Homo sapiens: one gene and its partners. The protein of the gene in region 1 interacts with the protein of each later gene in a pairwise test. Each region holds a gene or a part of one and is shown in the gene's direction. Other genes may lie near its edges.

The links. Proteins that work in one complex are often made in the same cells at the same time.
Region 2: the proteins of UBQLN1 (region 1) and TMCO6 interact in binary tests that used the Homo sapiens proteins (3 or more experiments, as listed by UniProt).
Region 3: the proteins of UBQLN1 (region 1) and CDS2 interact in binary tests that used the Homo sapiens proteins (3 or more experiments, as listed by UniProt).
Region 4: the proteins of UBQLN1 (region 1) and LAIR2 interact in binary tests that used the Homo sapiens proteins (3 or more experiments, as listed by UniProt).

The regions. Positions count from the first base shown.
Region 1 is NC_000009.12:83,662,110-83,666,820, reverse strand, and holds part of UBQLN1 (ubiquilin-1), read left to right. Parts: intron 1-387; coding exon 388-471; intron 472-1,675; coding exon 1,676-1,791; intron 1,792-2,777; coding exon 2,778-2,946; intron 2,947-4,711. UniProt on the Homo sapiens protein: Plays an important role in the regulation of different protein degradation mechanisms and pathways including ubiquitin-proteasome system (UPS), autophagy and endoplasmic reticulum-associated protein degradation (ERAD) pathway.
Region 2 is NC_000005.10:140,641,625-140,646,289, forward strand, and holds the end of TMCO6 (transmembrane and coiled-coil domain-containing protein 6), read left to right. Parts: intron 1-40; coding exon 41-156; intron 157-245; coding exon 246-429; intron 430-690; coding exon 691-795; intron 796-866; exon of another isoform or gene 867-961; coding exon 962-1,047; intron 1,048-1,282; coding exon of another isoform or gene 1,283-1,300; coding exon 1,301-1,417; intron 1,418-1,939; coding exon 1,940-2,051; intron 2,052-2,155; coding exon 2,156-2,342; intron 2,343-2,475; coding exon 2,476-2,570; intron 2,571-2,948; coding exon 2,949-3,116; intron 3,117-3,360; coding exon 3,361-3,474; 3' UTR 3,475-3,780; downstream 3,781-4,665. Other genes in the region: NDUFA2 (NADH dehydrogenase [ubiquinone] 1 alpha subcomplex subunit 2), read right to left, coding at 3,963-4,054.
Region 3 is NC_000020.11:5,132,682-5,137,392, forward strand, and holds part of CDS2 (phosphatidate cytidylyltransferase 2), read left to right. Parts: intron 1-4,711. UniProt on the Homo sapiens protein: Catalyzes the conversion of phosphatidic acid (PA) to CDP-diacylglycerol (CDP-DAG), an essential intermediate in the synthesis of phosphatidylglycerol, cardiolipin and phosphatidylinositol.
Region 4 is NC_000019.10:54,500,654-54,506,015, forward strand, and holds the start of LAIR2 (leukocyte-associated immunoglobulin-like receptor 2 isoform a precursor), read left to right. Parts: upstream 1-2,177; 5' UTR 2,178-2,265; coding exon 2,266-2,299; intron 2,300-3,046; coding exon 3,047-3,082; intron 3,083-5,362.

The DNA.
Region 1 (4,711 bases):
GTATTGATGTTTATGTTTATTCTGCCAGTGTAGTAGAAAATATATCTTCATGAATGCCAGTTACTCCCATTTTTCTTTCAATGGCATATATTCACGTTTGTTCAAGGAAAAGCCTAAGAAAATGATTGCTTTTATTTTTTAGGATATTGCATGTCATTATCATAACCACCATTCTCATTGAGAGAGAATATGCCTCATTTTTTTGTTTTTGTTCTTCTGGAGATCCCTCTTGTGGACAGTATCTTCCCTTTTCCTTTTTTTATTTATGTTCTACCTTCCTCCCTTTTAAGTGCCAGCTGAGGCACTTGGGGGAAGATAGAATAAAACAAGGTACATTACTTGTTTCAGATATTTCCAGTTAAAATTGTTTGAACACTTGCCCCATAGATGATGCTGAATAATCCCCTATTTGCTGGAAATCCTCAGCTTCAAGAACAAATGAGACAACAGCTCCCAACTTTCCTCCAACAAGTGAGTAAGACAAGATGTTAGCTATCTTGGGTAATGATTTGCTTGAAAAAATTTGATGATAAACATTTTTCCTTGCTCTTCTCTGGCTGATAGCAAAACATAGAATAGAGACCAATAATGCTGTCAATTCGTAGAGAATTCAGCTTGATCTTCACTGAGTCCCATTTCACTGCTGACCTTTTGCTTATGTTTCTTAAACATACATTCTGAGGAAAGAACATTTTGTTTTTGCTTTTGAGGACCTAGGATTTTGAATGCTTTGTTAATACCATAAACCATTTCCTTTCATTGTACTAACTTTGAAGTGCTTCCTTGTGTCATGTTACGCTTTATGGTTTAACTAATTTTGAGTAACAGGAAAGAGCTACCCTATTCTATTTTATAGGTTTTCTTCCAAATTAGTAGAAGGCTTTTTTTCCCCAAGGGGTAGATCTCATTTCCTCAAACTCGGGATTAGTAAGATTAAAATAGTCAGTGTTGTCATATAAGGAAGTAAGGAAGGTTATAGTATAAACGAGTACTTGAGATTGCCATGGTATTTTATTATTTAAAACGACAAAAGAGAAGTCAGTCTTGGTGTTTTGAAACTGGTAGTTCTAGGGCCTCATGTATTATGCAAATGACTCTCAGACCTGTAAACCATTTTCCAAGGTTGGTGTCCTTGATCTATTGTAATGATGTAAGCCTATCTTTGGTTAGTCAGGTGGTGTATATTTGGAAGTAGTAAAGCTAAACTCAGGATACATGTATTAACGTCAAATTTGGAACTGTTGTTTTAGAGTGTACCTTACTGGTAAAATTGTTATATTAGTAACAGATAACACTTGGTTAGGTGGAATATGTGGCTTTTTACCATATCCACGTCGTAAGAATTGTGCCTTTGGAGGTTGTGTCTTAGAAGTAATACTTTATCTTCTGTTGGAGAAGGGGAATAGTTGTGGCTTCCAAAGTAGCTCCTGATTTTCTTCCATTATGGAAATGGCTTTCATGATGGACTTAGGAGGAGGTCAAGTAATAATTTGCACACTAGGTTTGCTGTCAAAGAGGAGATACTTGCGTTTATTTTGGGAAAGAAATTATGGATTACCAGTGTCCAGGAGTAAGGTTTTAGATTTTCTCCAGAAGCATAACAGAGAAAAGATTTAAAAATTTACGTTCACTGATTTTAATTCCTTTGTAACCACTAGTTTTCTTTCTTCCTTAGATGCAGAATCCTGATACACTATCAGCAATGTCAAACCCTAGAGCAATGCAGGCCTTGTTACAGATTCAGCAGGGTTTACAGACATTAGCAACGGAAGCCCCGGGCCTCATCCCAGGGTAGGCTTATTTGGGGAAGATAATGAAAGTGTATAATGGTTACTTTCTCTGAGAATTTCAGATTTAGTATTATTCTGCCTGCCTTTTTTTTTTTTTTTTTTTTTTTGGTGGGATACAGGGTCTCGCCCTTCGCCTAGGCTATGAGTGTGGGGGCGCAGTTGTGGCTCACTGCAGCCTCGACCTCTCGGGCTCAAGGGATTCTCTCACCTCAGCCTCCCAAGTAGCTGGGACTACAGGTGTGCACCACCACACCTAGCTAATTTATATATATAATTTGTTGTTGTTACTGTTTTTAGAGATGGAGCTTTGCCATGTTATCCAGGCTGGTCTCAAACTTCTGGGCTCAAGAGATTTGGCCTCCCAAAGTGGGATCAGAGACATGAGCCATAGCACCTGGTTCTCCCCCACCGTTTTTATTTATTTATTTACTTATTTATTTATTAAGAGATCGGTTTTTGCTCTTTTACCCTGGCTGAACTTGAACTTCTAAGCTCAGGTGATCCTCCCACCTCAGCCTCCCCAGTAGTTGGGACACAGTGCCTGGCTATGATTGTTTTTAAGTCAGGGTTTTCAAAGTTAAAAATGATTATTATTATTTTTTAAATTCCTTTTAGAGATAGTCTCACTCCATCGAGCAGACTGGAGTGCAGTGGCGCGATCTCAGCTCACTTCAGCCTCTACCTCCTGGGCTAAAGCAATCCTCTTACCTCAGCCTGCCAAGTAACTGATACTACAGGTGTGCACCAGCACACCCAGCTAATTTTGTTTTTATTTTTTGTAGAGATGAAGTCTCAACAATGTTGCCTAAGCTGATCTCAAATTCCTGGGCTGCTGGGATCATCGGTCTCCCAGAATGAGCCACTGCACCAGGCCAAAAGGGCTTATTTTAAGAAGATGGCTTAGCTTATATTAAAATGTAACTGATTTACGGACTGGCTTCTGGTTTTGCAGGACCTTAGGATATTTCCTATTTGTGCTTTCTGTAGGTTTACTCCTGGCTTGGGGGCATTAGGAAGCACTGGAGGCTCTTCGGGAACTAATGGATCTAACGCCACACCTAGTGAAAACACAAGTCCCACAGCAGGAACCACTGAACCTGGACATCAGCAGTTTATTCAGCAGATGCTGCAGGCTCTTGCTGGAGTAAATCCTCAGGTATCAGTTCTTTTCCATTCAAGTTTTGTATTCCTTAATGTTGGAAATTTAGAAATTTCCAAAAAGAAGGAAAAAGGGAGAAAAAAGGAAAGCAGTAGTTCTTAGGTGTTTAGATTAATGAAAAATACAGTCTTAAGGATATTGAGTAAGAAAACAGGCATTACAAAAATTGTTGACTTTGGTGCTGAGACACTAAAGGAAACGTTGTTACGGTTGTAGAGAAGACATGCTACAACCTAAAGTCTTATTTTTTAGAAATTGCCTTTAAAAATGCATTTTTTTTGTTCCTATTTGAAAATCATTTGAAATAGATTTTGCTTTAAAAAAGTTCTTAGGGAGGAATGGAAACTTGATTATCCCAAGTACCTCCAGGGCAGCTGTATTCTAGTCTGTCTTTTGACTGGAAAAAAGTCCTAACTACCTTAACTCCACCCATGACACCACCTCCTGCGGTAGCTTGTGTTACATATATATATATCTCGTAAATATGGCTAAAGAATATGGACCCCCTAATAATGTGGTTGCATCTACAAACATACATTGGTTTTACTAATAATGTGCCATTATATAAAGATGATCGCCAGTTTAAACCTGTTTTATTAGGTTGTCCCCAAACTTCTTAATGTCTCAAGGTCTGTTAGGTGCTTTCTGTTTTCTTTTCTGGGTTTCTTTTTTCTTTCCCTTTCTCCTTTCCCCTTTCCTTTTCCTCCTTCCTCTTCCCCTTTCCCTTTTCCCTTTCCTCTTCCCCTTCCCCCTTTCCCCTTTTTCCTCTTTCCCCTCTTTGCCTTTCCCTTTTTTTTTTTTCTTTCCCTTTCCCTTTTGACAAAGTGCCCAGGCTGGATGCAATCACAGCTCACTGCGACCTGCACCTCCTGGGCTGCAGCAATCCTCCCACCTTAGCCTCTGGAGTAGCTGGGATTACAGGCGCAGACCACCACACCTGGCTAATTTTTGTATTTTTTGTAGAGCTGGGGTTTCAACCGTGTTGCCCAGGTTGGTCTCAAACTCCTGAGCTCAAGCGATCTCACCCGCCTTGGCCTCCCAAAGTGCTGGGATTACAGGCGTGAGCCTGGCCTGCTTTCTGTTTTCAAGCCTTACTAAATATAATAAATAGGGTAGGGTTCTGTCTCATACATATCTGTATTCCTGATAAGCTAGCGTAGCATAGTTTCTGGCTCTTGGTAGGTACTCAGTAAATATTCATGGAATAAATAAGAAAGAAGGATTTGGAGTATTAGAATTAATTGTGACATAAGTTAACTTACAAGCCTCCAAATTATCAGGTAGGCCTAGGATTGATTGGTCATTTATATGGAGATTTTTTTTTTTAACTTCATTTCTGAAGAAAAGATTTGATGCTGCTGAAATGTCAGAATTAAGAGTATAATTTTGGGCCTGAAACTGAAGCTCTTTTCTAAGAATTGACTGTCCAGTGCAAAAATTAAACTCACATTCATTCGAAGAATCATTGAAGCTTTAGAATTTTATACATGAGGATACCAGCTTTTATAGTTACTCAATTGGTCAGTAGCTACACAAATCATCTAATTCTGAACTATCTGTGTGTGTGTGTGTGTGTGTGTGTGTGTGTGTGTGTGTGTATATGTATATGTATATACACACACACATACAGGTTTTTCTGCATGTACGTGATCCTCTAAAATAATGGTTGATGTTTATTAAGCTTTTCTCCCCCTCCCCTAAAGTAGAGTCGTGATCTATTTGACATGATTATTTAGGTACAAACTAGACTATTTAAAATAAA
Region 2 (4,665 bases), on another chromosome or scaffold:
TGTGAACCGTGTGTTCTCCTTTCCCTGCCCTGAACTCCAGGTGCAGCAGTTCCTGCGGCAAGCCCAGCGGGGGACAGAGGAAAAGGAGAGAGAGGGGGCTCTGGTCAGCCTTCGTCGAGGCTTGCAGCACCCTGAAACACAGCAAACCTTCATCCGGTCAGTGTGGATGGTGTGGTGGAGGGAGGAGTTGGGGCTCTGAGGGATGGACCACAAGCTAAGCAGGGCTCTGGTACTCACTCACATAGGCTGGAGGGCAGCATGCGGACCCTGGTCGGGCTCCTGACCAGCAACCAGGCCCTGCTGCAGCTTGAGGCGGCTCGGTGCCTGCATGAGCTCTCTCACTCCGAGCAGTCCACTGTTGCTGAGGCCTGCCTGCCAGCCACTTCTTACCTCCTCACCTACCTCTCCAGTCACAGCTCAGACTTCATAGTAAGCCCTGTCCCTTCCTATCTTGTTCTTGGTTTAGATTTTAAAATTGTGCTTTTGGGACCAGTTTGAGCTGGCAGGTAGGAGGAAGAAAACATGTTTGCCCTTATGCCTACAGCCATGGCTACACCCATCATCTCCCCACCCTCTTGTGAGCCGCAAGGATAGCTGCTCCAGCGTCCCCATCACCTCCCCTCCCCATCTCCCCACACGCAGCCTGGCATGAAACAGGCCAAGCCCAGTGCTTTTGTTGCCTGTTCTCAGGAGCTGTGTCTGTATACACTGGGTAACCTGATCGTGGAGAGTGAGGCTGTGAGAAGGCAGCTCCTGCCACAGGGCATTGTTCCAGCCTTGGCTGCCTGCATCCAGGTGACTCCTTTCTTCCTCCCTGGGCAACCCTTCCTTTGCTCCTCCCCACATGCTCCATCTACTTTGGTTAGGTAGCTCCAGCCTCTGCCCTGTGCCAAGGGGCTGAAAGTCTCTGAAGACCTGATGACCCAGCTTCCAGTCAGATCCTTACCCTGTCTACTTCCAGTCCCCCCATGTGGCTGTGCTGGAAGCTCTCGGATATGCCTTGTCCCAGCTTCTACAGGCTGAGGAAGCTCCAGAGAAGATCATTCCGTGAGTAAAATTGTCTTTAGATGTGCAGCCAGAGGTGACCCACTCAGTAGTATAGCTCCCGGATGCCTGAATGATTTCCAAAGCTGTTGCACATTTTAAATTCATGTGTCTGGCTAGGAAGGGCTTTGGGTTTGGACACTTTCCCATCTGGGCAGGGCTTTGGGTTTGGACACTCTCCCACCTGCTATCAGGGTTTGGTAAGAACCACTGGCATCTTCGTGGTTCCTACTTACAGCCCTGCTTCTGCCAGCAGCTCCATCTTGGCCTCCACTCTCCCTCAGCACATGCTACAAATGTTGCAACCTGGCCCAAAGCTCAACCCTGGGGTCGCTGTGGAGTTTGCCTGGTGCCTTCATTACATCATCTGCAGGTAACAGGGCAATTGGGAAAGTACCACAGATCTTCCCTGGGGCTCCCTTCCATGACATTCAACTCTTTGAACTTGTGTCTGGAATTGCTATAGTGAGTTTTCCTCCCTCCACTGTCTTCTCTTTTTGGAGCCCAGGAGACCCACAGACCTTAGCTGTTTCTCTTTTTTTTTGAGACAGTCTCACTCTGTCACCCAGGCTGGATGGAGTACAGTGGTGCGATCTCAGCTCACTGCAACCTCTGCCTCCCGGGTTCAAGCGATTCTCCTGCCTCAGCCTCCTGAGTAGCTGAGACTACAGATGCGTGCCACTATGCCCGGCTAATTTTTGTATTTCTAATAGAGACGGAGTTTCGCCATGTTGGCCAGGCTGGTCTCAAACTCCTGACCTCAGGTGATCCACCCACCTCAGCCTCCCAAAGTGCTGGGATTACAGGCATAAGCCACCACGCCTAGGCAACTGCTTCTCTTCTTAAAGGTGGAATTGACTATATACCTAGGGACTGCTTGCTTCCTGTTGCCCAGCCAGGTCAGCAATCCTCTGCTCATTGGCCATGGGGCTCTGTCTACTCTGGGGTTGCTGCTGTTGGACTTGGCTGGGGCTGTCCAGAAAACCGAGGATGCAGGACTGGAGCTGGTAGGTGAAGATGTCAGGTGAAATTCTGGGAGATGTTTCTTGATACTCTGGAATGCAGGTAACCTCTTCCTTCTTACACCTGACCCCCCAATTTGTCTTTGCAGCTGGCATGCCCCGTGCTTCGATGTCTAAGCAACCTGCTAACTGAGGCAGCAGTGGAGACTGTGGGAGGGCAAATGCAGCTCAGAGATGAGCGTGTTGTGGCAGCCTTATTTATCCTTCTGCAGTTCTTTTTCCAGAAACAGCCCAGTCTGCTCCCTGAGGGCCTTTGGCTCCTCAACAACCTCACTGGTACGCACCATAATCTGCCCAGGCCTGGACATTTGGATAATGGGGATATTTCCTCATGGCCTAGGCTGAGGTGGGTAGTATTGACAGGGGTGGTGGGGGAAAGCAGTTTTTCACCCTGGTACTTCTCTTCCAGCAAACAGTCCTAGTTTCTGTACCTCCTTGCTCTCCCTGGATCTGATTGAGCCTCTCTTACAGCTGTTGCCAGTATCTAACGTGGTGAGCGTAATGGTATGTATTGGGGTTACTTGAATCCAAGATCTGGTAGTCGGATTGTATGGGACAGCAGTCCTGAGCCCTCAGATGTACCCTTAGTTGAGAGCCAGCAGGTGGTGGTGTGTGGCCTCAGGGCCCAACCAATCTAGGTGTGTGTCCCTTAAACTGGATTATTTATCCTTGGACAAATCAACTAACCACCTTAAGCTTCAGTCTCCTCACTTATAACTGAGGATAATCTTGCATCATAGGGTAGTTGTAGGAGTATGAGAACATGTATGTAGAAGAGCTTGGCATGGTGCCTGGGCATGTGGTCACCATGTCATATATTTTAGCTATTGTTATGATCTTTGTGTTTCATTCTTTGTAGACTATATATGTGTCTATCTGCAGGTGCTCACAGTTCTGTGCAATGTTGCAGAAAAGGGTCCTGCTTACTGCCAGCGGCTGTGGCCAGGGCCCCTGCTTCCCGCCTTGCTGCACACACTAGCCTTTTCTGACACTGAAGTAGTAGGCCAGAGTTTGGAGCTGCTGCATCTGCTGTTCCTGTATCAGCCAGAGGTATAGGTTTCTGGCCCACATCCTCAGTCACCCCTGTTCTGAAGCCACACAGTGGCTCCCTTCCCATCCAGTCCTAACTATAGTTGTTTCTCTGGGCCTGGCTAACCTATATAGGTTCCATGTCAGAAACTTCATCCTCTTGTTGGGGAATGCACCCTCTGGAGTAGGCTGACCCATGAGGCTGTGGGAATTGAGTCTTAGGACACAGAGACCAGGTGTGTTGAATTTTCTTCCCTGCCCCTAGGCTGTTCAGGTCTTCCTGCAGCAGTCAGGGCTGCAAGCCCTGGAAAGGCATCAGGAAGAGGCCCAGCTCCAGGATCGTGTGTATGCTCTCCAGCAGACAGCTCTTCAAGGGTGATCTTGTTTCTCAATGTCACTCATTCCCCTCTCTCTTAACATCAAGCTTGTTTGTCCAGTAGAGCCTTTGGAGATTTAGGACCATAATGAGGTCTCATGTTCTCTGCTCCCACACCTAAGCCAAGACCTTTGGGTCCCAGCTCCTCCCCTTCCACTCAGCACTATCCAGGCAGGAGGACCAAAAGGGACTCAGTGTGGTCTACTTACTCTGGGGCCCTAGAATCCCTGCCCCCCCGCCACCCTTCATGTTTGCTTCAGCAGCTGGTAGCTTTTGATGAGACAGAATAAAGTTTTATTTTTATATTAAGCTACTTTGCCTCAGTGGTTGCACAGTAAGGGGTAGAGGGTAGATGAGGACAAGAACACCCTGAGAAAGTATTTTACAGCACAAGCTTTATGAGGAATAGGAGAACACATTTTTTTCACATTATACTAAGTCCAGCAGAGCCCAGGCTCTGGGGCTGTTGCTCTTAATCCTCAGTGGAGGCTTCAGGCTTTACCACTTAGAACGTTCTCCAGGGCTCTGGTTACCTGATCAGCACTGAAGTTGTTCAAAGGGACATTCGTCTCTTGGCCAAATGCTGAAGAGAGAGAGGGAGGTGTCTTTAACTATTCTGCACCCTGGAGGCTACCAAAGTAAAATAAAAGATCTTTGTCTTTATCTTAGTCTTGTTAAGACAGGAAGAGTATTAAAGAGATATGATCAAAATACATTTGGTATGCCTAGAATTAATACAATAGGTCTCAAACACATCTAGGAAGCCCAAGTCCAAATAGAATTTTGGCTGATTCTGGATGGCCGCAATGGGTTGTTTCAGGGAAGCTTTCGGGGGCACTGTAGGCATTTATTATTAACTACGGTGAGCAATGTATTGCATGGGTCCAGCCTCAGCTGGGAGCCCATTCTCTCTCTTTTTTTTTTTTTTTTTTTGAGACGGAGTCTCGCTCTGTCACCCAGGCTGGAGTGTGGTGGCACGATCTCCACTCACTGCAACCTCCACCTCCTGGGTTCAAGCAATTCTCCTGCCTCAGCCTCCTGAGTAGCTGGGATTACAGGTGCCCGCCACCACACCCGGCTAATTTTTGTATGTTTAGTAGAGACGGGGTTTTACCATGTTGGCCAGGCTGGTCTTGAACTCCTGACCTCAGGTGATCCACCTGCTTCAGCCTCCCAAAGTGCTGGGATTACAGG
Region 3 (4,711 bases), on another chromosome or scaffold:
CAGGGAGAGGAGGTGAAAGATTATTTTCTCATATAACCAATTATTTTATGTTTCTTATTTTTGTTGCTCAAACAGTATGATTTTATTTTAAAAACTCAATTACTGCATGATTTTTGACTATTTAAAATTAGTTTTTCCAAAATCTATTTTTAAAAAATGTTTTGTGTTTGCCCAGGTTAACATGGTATTTCATTAGAAGAATTTTTATCGGCCGGGCGCGGTGGCTCACGCCTGTAATCCCAGCACTTTGGGAGGCTGAGGCGGGCGGATCACGAGGTCAGGACATTGAGACCATCCTGGCTAAGACGGCAAAACCCCTTCTCTACTACAAAAAAAAAAAAAAATTAGCTGGGTGTGGTGGCGCCCGTAGTCCCAGCTACTCAGGAGGCTGAGGAGAATGGCGTGATGGCGTGAACCCGGGAGGCGGAGCTTGCAGTGAGCCGAGATCCCACCACTGCACTCCAGCCAGGAGGACAGAGCGAGACTTCATCTCAAAAAAAAAGAATTTTTATCATCTTTAAAAAATGTTAAATTGCTCTCCTTGGTTGTTAGGACTAGAAGGGACTTTAAAGGTGTTTTTTATTTTTAGGAACAGGGTCTCACCTTGTTGCCCAGGCTGGAGTGTAGTGGCACAGTCATAGCTCACTACAGCTTTAAACTCCTGAGCTCAAGCCATCCTCCTACCTCAGTCTCCTGAGTAGCTCAGGACTACAGGCCTGAGCCATGGCACCCGGCTTGAGGTAGTTATTTTATAGAAGAGGATGCCACAGCTCAGAGAGTTTAAGTTATTAGCTCAAGATGACTTAGTTGGTTAGATACAGAATGGTTCGTATTATGAAGGTCTTCTATTTATTTATTTTTTGAGACGAAGTTTCGCTGTTGTTGGCCCAGGCTGGAGTGTAATGGTATAATCTCAGCTGACCGCAACCTCTGCCTCCTGGGTTCAAGCAATTCTCCTGCCTCAGCCTCCTGAGTAACTGGGATTACGGGCATGCCACCACGCCCAGCTAATTTTGTATTTTTAGTAGAGATGGGGTTTCTCCATGTTGGTCAGGCTGGTCTCGAACTCCTGACCTCAGGTGATACTCCCGCCTTGGCCTACCAAAGTGATGGGATTACAGGCGTGAGCCACCGCGCCTGGCCTATGAAGGTCTTCTAATTCCCGGTTGTTGTTTTTTATTTTTTTCTCATAGAATTAATTTACAGACTTTAAAAGCTTCTTTATTGATTAACATTGATAGATATGATACCCAAATGTTACCTATTTTTCTTATTTGGCTACAAAATCAAAAAAATACTATATAAATCTTTCAAAATGTTAAATGTTAAAAAGGTCTCAGAGTAAATGTGGAGACTCTTTGCAGAAAAAAATGTATGTGTTTTATAGAGAAAGTTGATTAGTTTCAGTTTTCCTGGTTATCGGATGACTGTGATTTAGACATTTGTGAGCACTTTCCTGGGAGTGGCCACTCTGGTATCCTTGAAAGGCACTCCCGGCGCAGTGCTTGAAGACCACAAGGCGCCTTACCCAGGCAGTGGGTGAGGGTGCTTGGAAGAAATGCTTTCCAGTTAATGACTGTTAGCATGAGAACCATTTGTTCTAGTAATAAGCAGTCATTCAGTATTCAACGCTTCTCTTTAGAACATTCACTGACTGTAGGGTCTGCTATGGACGGTGTCTGTATTTCTGAGAGGGGCTGGTGTTATCAGTGTTCATAAGGATATTATTCAGAATTTTATTGCCTGTTTTGACTCCACATAATCAATTTTTTCCCTACTGATTTAAAGAAATAATACAATCTTTTTTAAATCAATAATATTTAAGAGTTTTATTTTTATTTATCTATTTATTTTTTGAGATGGAGTTTCTCTCTTGTTGCCCAGGCTGGAGTCCAATGGCGTGATCTCAGCTCACTGCAACCTCTGCCTCCCGAGTTCAAGTGATTCTCCTGCCTCAGCCTCCCGAGTAGCTGGGATTACAGGCGCCCACCATCACACCCAGCTAATTTTTATATTTTTAGTAGAGACAGGGTTTCACCATGTTGGCCAGGCTGGTCTCAAATTCCTGACTTCAGGTGATCTGCCTGCCTTGGCCTTCTACAATGCTGGGATTACAGGCATGAGCCACCGTACCCAGCCGACTGCATATTTAAATTGGTAAGGTAGAAAATGAGCATGAGAGTCTAACAGCTGATGGATATGGGAACATAATACTTGATAAAATCATTCAGAATATGTTTGATAAACAAGAAGATTGTATAAAACCTGCACTGTCCTACTAATGTAAAGCATTTCTCCTCCCTCACTTTATTCTCAACCTTACAACTGCCAGAAATTATATAATCTTGAATATATTTGAGAAACTCTTTTTAAAATGAATCTTGTAACTAATTTCTTTTTTGAATTTATATATATAAATATATACATACTTATTTTATAATAGAGACAGGGTCTTAAAATGTTGACCATTGAACTCCTGGGTTCAAGCGATCTTCTCGCCTCGGCCTCTCAAAGGGCTGGTACAGCGTGAGCCACCGTGCCCGGCCATTGTAACTAATTTCACAGGGCAGATAATCATCCTTTAAACTGTTTGAAAAGATTTGAGTGTTACTGTTTCTGGTTTTCACACTTTTCCATCTTTTCTAGGATCCACGTAGGTGGAGGAGATTCCTCTCCACAGTTTGTTAAGCTACATTCTATGTTGTTAAGGTCTCCCAGCCCTTCTGGACTGGCACTAGAGGCTGTTGGGGGTGAAAAAGTACAGCTGTTTGTGTGTCATACTGCCTCTGGTTCAGAAAAGAGACGGACACTGACTCTTCACTATTAATTTTGCCAAAGTCTCCTTGAAAGAATGCTAATTTGTTCCTGGCACTGGGCAGGGTTCCTGCCTTCCAAGTCTTGTCATGTGGTGGTTACTTGGCTGGGGTAATAGTGAGGCACCCCCTCCCCACCCCCACGTATGGTCCCCACCGGGCAGCTTCCTATGCCAGTCACTGATATTTGTTCTCATGTTGTTTGCCCCAACAGTAGGGATGGCATTGAGCCCACTAAGTTGACTGACCTTTTGAAGAAAGTTAAACTTTATGGTGTTATTTTGAGTAGGCAGTCTGTGGTGCAGAATTTGTAGGCAGCAAAGGGTATTCTGTGAAGTTTCCTTTCTCCCGCCTGCCTCTCCCCAGGGACAGCCTCATGCCACACTGTGGTTCTCATGAGCACTGCTGTCTGTGTGGAAGGACCTGACCTGTCCTACCAAAGTCAGACATCTTTTTGATTTGTTGTCTTTGGCAGAAGCTCCTTTGTATTAAGGTCTCCATAGGGCCAGCTTGGGGCTTCTCTGTAAAGACTTTGCTGAGGTTTTGAGAGTTCCTGGGACTTGGGATTTACGGGCAACACTCTCTGCCCCTGGGTCTCTGATGTGGAGAGGATGTCTGCCATTGACACCGAACCCCTGAGTGGGCAACTCTCAGAGCCATATCTCCACAGTCCATGCCTGGCTAGTCCTGTGGTTTCAGTGGTCTACAAGACATTCCTAGGTGCATGCCCTTCAGTCCACACAAACTGACTTTGTCTCAAATCTGAATTCTCTCATTCTACTCTTACCACCCTCCTTCAGTTTCTTTCTTCTGCGATAAAATCCCAGATGACTCGGTTACTCAGGCTTGAAATCTCCTATTCCTTTGTTCCCGTGCCCAGGGCAGGATGCAGATTCTAACCAGGTGTGACTTGGAATCCTTATCTGTTTGTTGTTTGTTGTCTGTTTGTTGCTCTTGGAGACTTCAACATTTCAGGACTGCAGTATTGTAAATGCCTGCAGTATCCTAAATCCGAATTCCTTACCTCTCCTGGAATCCTTATCTGTCTTTTACTCTTTGAGATTTCCCAAATTTCAGGATTTATTGCTTGCCTTATTGTAAACCCTGTGAATTGAGCTCCCTCCTGTTAGGATTTGCTCTAGGTCCCTCCTAATCCATCTTGTTCTTTGTATCTTTCAGGAGTTCTGAAACTGCCCTAATAATTATTGGGGGGGTGGGGTGGAGTGATAGAATTCTGGCTCTTTTTCATAATGCTTAAACTTTAAGATCCTTTGTAGTCTTCTGTCTCTCATTTCCTTCCAATTCTTGTTTTAGGTTCAGGGGATACATGTGCAGGTTTGGTACACGGGCAAATTGCACATTGCTGAGGTTTGGTGTACAAATGATTTTGTCACCTAGGTAGTGAGCATAGTACTAGATGGGTAGTTTTTCAATCCTCACCAGCCTCCCACTCTCCACCCTCAAGCCCTGGTGTCTCTTGTTCCCCTCTTTGTGTCCATGTGTAGCTCCCAGTTCACTCTGCAAGTGAGAACATGTAGTGTTTGGTTTTCTCTTCTTGCATTAATTTGCTTAGGATAATGACCCCTAGCTGCATCCATGTTGCCACAAAGGATATGATTTTATTCTTTTTTATGTAGCCTTCTCTCTTAACTGGCCTTTCTCCCTGCTTGGTGCCTCTGTGTCATGGATCTTGATTCTTGCTCTTTCCTACCTCTGAAATGTGTTCTTTCTGTCACCCTCCCTCATTTCTACCCTTTTTTTTTTTTTGAGATGGAGTCTCGCCCTGTCGCCCAGGCTGGAGTGCAGTAGCGTGATCTCGGCTCACTGCAGCCTCCGCCTCCCAGGTTCAAGCAATTCTCCTGCCTCAGCCTCCCTAGTAGCTGGGACAACAGGTGCTT
Region 4 (5,362 bases), on another chromosome or scaffold:
CTGTTATTAAGAGATAAATATGATTCCCAGGAACATTGCTCTGTTCTGCTTTATTATTATTGGTCATATCTGGTCATACGCCCTGAAAACCCTGAAAATGGGATTGCTAAAATCGCCTTAATCTAAACTCCATTTCCCTCCCACTTGCTCCCTGGGCTTGGAGCACAACCACTCAAACAGAACTGGCTTTTGGTCAGTAAGGAAGAAGTGAGCAACGGCTGCGGTGTAGACCCTCGTCAATGCCTGCGACGGTTACACCTGGAGACAAGCTCCCCAGTGTCCTCAGGAGCAGCGGAGATGAGAATCCATGATAGGGTGGGCTCTGTCCCCCTCAGCTCCGTGATGCCGAAATGCACTGCTGGTCCTGGTCCTGCTCCTCATTCCACACCCGGCTGAGTGCCCATCTGACCCCAGACCTCAACGCGAGGTTCTAAGCACTGTCTCCTGACCCTTCAACCCCTTCGGGATTTTGCATGTGCTGTTGGACCACCTCACTCCCACCTGGAGCCAAATGACACTGTAGGAGGAGGGGAAGAGAACTTATGCTAGTAGAGTGTGTGTGTGTGTGTGTGTGTGTGTGTGTGTGAATGTGTGTGTGTATTATACATAATATATATAATTACAACATTGTTAATGGGGCCGGGCGCGGTGGCTCACACCTGTAATCACAGCACTTTGGGAGGCTGAGACGGGCAGATCACATGAGGTCAGGAGTTCAAGACCAGCCTGGCCAACATGGTGAAACCCCGTCTCTACTAAAATACAAAAATTAGCCGGGCATGGTGGCGTGCGCCTGTAGTCCCGGCTACTCAGCAGGCTGAGGCAAGAGAATTGCTTGAGCCTGGGAGGCGGAGGTTGCAGTGAGCCAAGATTGCACCACTGCACTCCAGCCTGGGCAACAGAGTACGACTCCATCTCCACACACACATACACACACACACACACACACACAAATTGTTAATTGTATATGTATAATTATAATAGTTTATATATATTAACAATTATATATAAACTTGCATATATATAGTATTTGCTGTATTATTATATATAAACAATTATATATGTAATGACTGTATAAAATAGATAAACAATTTTAACTAATAATATTATATTAATTATATTATTATTAGATGTAATAATTATAATTATTTATATATAATATTTATTATTATGTATCATTGTTAGAACACTTAACATGAGCTCTGTCCTCTTAACAAATTTCAAGTGAACAAGACGTTATTGCTGACGATGGGTCGTATGTGGTGCAGCAGATCTCTAGGCCTGTTTGTTAATAACTCCCCATTTCCCCCTCCTCCCAGCCCCCGTAACCACCATTCCCTGCTGTGATGTTGTGACTCTGGTGACTTTGCAGATCTCCTGTAAGTGACATCATGCAGTACTTGGTCTCTGCATCTGCGTCGCTTGGCGTGATGTCCTCAGGTTTCGTCTGTGTTGTCGCCCATGGCAGAATTTTCTTCCTTGTTTAAGGCTGAATAGTATTCCCCTGTGTGTGCACCACATTTTCTATATCAATTCTTCTATCAATGGACATTTAGATGATTTTCACGTCTTAGCTATTGCGAATAGTGCTGCAGTGATCAGGGGAGTTCAGACGGCTCTTTGCATACTGAATTTGTTTCTTTTAAATATAGACCCAGAAGTGGCATTGTTGGACCATACGGTAGCTCTATGTTTAGTTTTTTGAGGAACCTCCCCACTGTTCTCTATAGTGAGTGCACAATTTTTCAGCCTCCCAAAGTGCTGGGATCACAGGCGTGAGCCACCGCGCCCGGCGCACTGTAGGATCTTTTTTAATGCATTATATACCTTGCTGAGATTTTAGCAGAGATCACAATATTAAAAACTTGGGGAAGGATTTCTATGACTCTTATTTTAAATACGAGGACATGTCGACTTCTAGTTTTGTAACATCTTGCCCAAGAGCGGTGGTCGTTAACGTGTGGAGTTGGGATGACATCCAAGTCAGTTGGTTGCACGACCTTTATTCTGTCTTGTCCCATAGATTTAGAAAGAGGCTGACACATCGGGTAACTAGTTTAAGGTCATCTGATCATGCGGGTAAGCGACATTTTTCAGAAACCAAGGCCCTCCCTCTCATCTCACTAGTGGGAAGGGTGGAAAGAACAGAACAGAAAGCTCTCCCTCTTGTGTGAGGCAGTTGCTGTGGAAGCCCCACGGGCAGGAGGCCCCCGGCCAGCACATCCTGTCTGCTTGTGTCTGCTGCAGAGTTCTGGGACCGGGGCCATGTCTCCACACCTCACTGCTCTCCTGGGCCTAGGTGAGTCCTGGAGGGAGCGGGAAGGACTGGAAAGGGGGTCGGGAGGTCTGGAAAGTTCCCTGCTCAAGCCTGACTCTAGTCCAGAAGATTCTGGGGAGGAAAGTGTCCTCCTCCCCCCAAGACTGCCCTACTGCTCTCCCTGGGGCCTAAGTCTGATCAGAGACAACCTTGTCCTAAAAACAGGGGCCCGGGTGTGGGGATGAGGTCAGCTTTAAGAAGGGCTGGGGGGCCAGGCGCGGTGCTCACACCTGTAATCCTAGCACTTTGGGAGGCTGAGGCAGGTGGATCACCTGAGGTCAGGAGTTTGAGACCAGCCTGGCCAACGTGGTGAAACTCCATCTCTACTAATACAAAAATTAGCCGGGCATGGTGGCGGGCACCTGTAATCCCAGCTACTCGGGAGGCTGAGGCAGGAGAATTGCTTGAACCCGGGAGGTGGAGGTTGCAGTGAGCTAAGATCGCGCCACTGCACTCTAGCGTGGGCGACAAGAACAAAACTCCGTCTCCAACAACACCAAAAAGAAGGGCTGGGGGAGCAGGAGCCTTTTTGGAAGAGGAGACTTTGGGATTTATCTTGAAACCATTTTGCAGCAAGAAGGATTACATGGAGACAGTGATGTCGAGGAGGGTTGGCTTGGTCGTTATGAAATGCTGAATGCCCCCCAGCTCCGTCAAGCCCCCTTTTGACAGCAGCCCTGTAAGGAGACTGGGCAGTGGGCATTTTTCTCACTGGGGCTTCTCTTCCAGTGCTCTGCCTGGCCCAGACCATCCACACGCAGGAGGGTAAGTCATGCCTTCGTCCCGTCTTCCCAGTCCCCTCTGTCACCCCAAAGGCAGTGCTGGGTGGGAGTGATGTTGATTCTTAGAGGGCCTGGAGAGATCCCTTTAAATATACCCTAGATTGCAAACTATTCCAAATGTAAAATGCATAACCCTCACCCCTTTCTCTCCTTCATTCTCCACCTGTCATGTTTTGCTTTTCTTATTTTCAAAAATCCTATATTTTATTTTATTTTTATTTTTGAGATGGAGTCTCACTCCATCACCCAGGCTAGAATGCAGTGGCATAATCTCGGCTCACTGCAACCTCTGCTCCCAGTTTCAAGCGATTCTCCTGCCTCGGCCTCCTGAGTAGCTGGGATTACAGGCACCCACCACCACCCCTGGCTAATTTTTTTTTTTTTTGTATTTTTAGAAGAGATGGGGTTTCACCATATTGGCCAGGCTGGTCTCGAACTCCTTACCTTATGATCCGCCCGCCTCAGCCTCCCACAGTGCTGGGATTACAGGCATGAGCCACTGTGCCCAGCCAAAAATCTTATTTTTAATCGACAAATAATTGTATATGTTTGTGGGGCACGATGTGATGTTACAACGTATGTAAACATTGTGGAAAGATTAAATAAGGCTAAATAACATATCAATCACATCACATACTTATTGTGATGAGAACATTTAAAACCTACTTTTAGCAATTTTGAAATATATAATAAGTTATTATTAACTATAGTCAGCCTGCTATGCAATAGATCTCAAAAACTTACTCCTCCTGTTTAACCGAAACTTTGTACCATTTGATCAGTGTCTCTCCCAAGCCCCCCATTTCCCGACTTTAATAGCATCATTCTAATCTCTAACTCTGTGAGATGACCTTTTTTGTTTGTTTGTTTGTTTTGGGATGGAGTCTCACTCTGTCACCCAGGCTGGAGTGCAATGGCACAATCTCGGTTCACCGCAAACTCAACTTCTCAAGTTCAAGCGATTCTCCTGCCTCAGCCTCTCGAGTAGCTGGGATTACAGGTGCATGCCACCACGCCCAGCTAATTTTTGTGTTTTTAGTAGAGATGGGGTTTCACCATGTTGGCCAGGCTGGTCTTGAACTCCTGACCTCAGGTGATCCACCCACCTCGGCCACACAAAGTGCTGGGATTACAGGTATGAGCCACTGCACCCGGCCGAGATGAACTTTTTTAGATTCCACATGCGGTATTTGTCTTTCTGTACCCAGCTTATTTCACTTAGCATAATGTCCTCTGGTTCATCCATGCTGTTGTGAATGACAGAATGTCCTTCCTTTTTTAGGGCTGAATAATATTCCATTGCATATATACACCACATTCTCCTCATCCATTCATTTGGTGGTGGTTATATAACTCAGGTTATTTCCAGGTCTTGGCAGCTGTGAGTAGCGCTGCGGTCACCCTGGGAGTGCAGGCATCACCTCCACACACCGATTTCCACAATGAGAATTCAAACCCAACACAACCAAGGCTGAACCCGGCACTTTTCCCCAGACGAGCCCACACTTCACTCGGCAGCTTCTTGGCGGGGAACGTGACAGTCACAAAGGGCAGACTCTGAACACTCATCCTCTTCTCCATCCTCCTGGATGCACCATGTCACCCAGTCCTGGTGATTTCACTCTAAATTTTTCTCATCTTTCCCTCTCTCTTCATCGACTTTTCCTGCATCACCCCCAGGTGACAGCCCTTCTCCCCTCCGTGGCTCCCCGAGGCCGGCCTCAGCCTGTCCATGCCACTGCTGCCTGCTCCCTTCCTGACCCCAGGGACTGGCGATTTGCAAAAGCACAACCATGACCATTGTACTTTCCACAGTTTTTAAATTGCATTCAAAAATTTTCATTTAATATCTCATCGTAAGATGAAGTTTTTTTCTTAGAGCCCTTCCCCTGTTTATCTTCAGATAGAATCAACCCAGGCACCTCTCTTTGTTCTGGACATGCCCATTTTCCCAGCCACATCCTGTCCCTGTGACCTGGGGCTCACTCATCTCTACATTCCTCCAGGTTCTTTCGCTTTCTCAAACACTCCATATGCCGCTCAACATGGTGGTTCTTCTCACATGCTGATTTTTTTTTTTTTTTTTGAGATGGTGTTTCATTCTTGTTGCCCAGGCTGGAGTGCAATGGCTCGGTCTTGGCTTACTGCAACCTCTGCCTCCCTGGTTGAAGCAATTCTCCCTGCCTCAACCTCCCAGGTAGCTAGGATTACAGGTGCCTGCCACCATGCCTGGCTGATGTTTTTGTATTTTTAGTAGAGACGG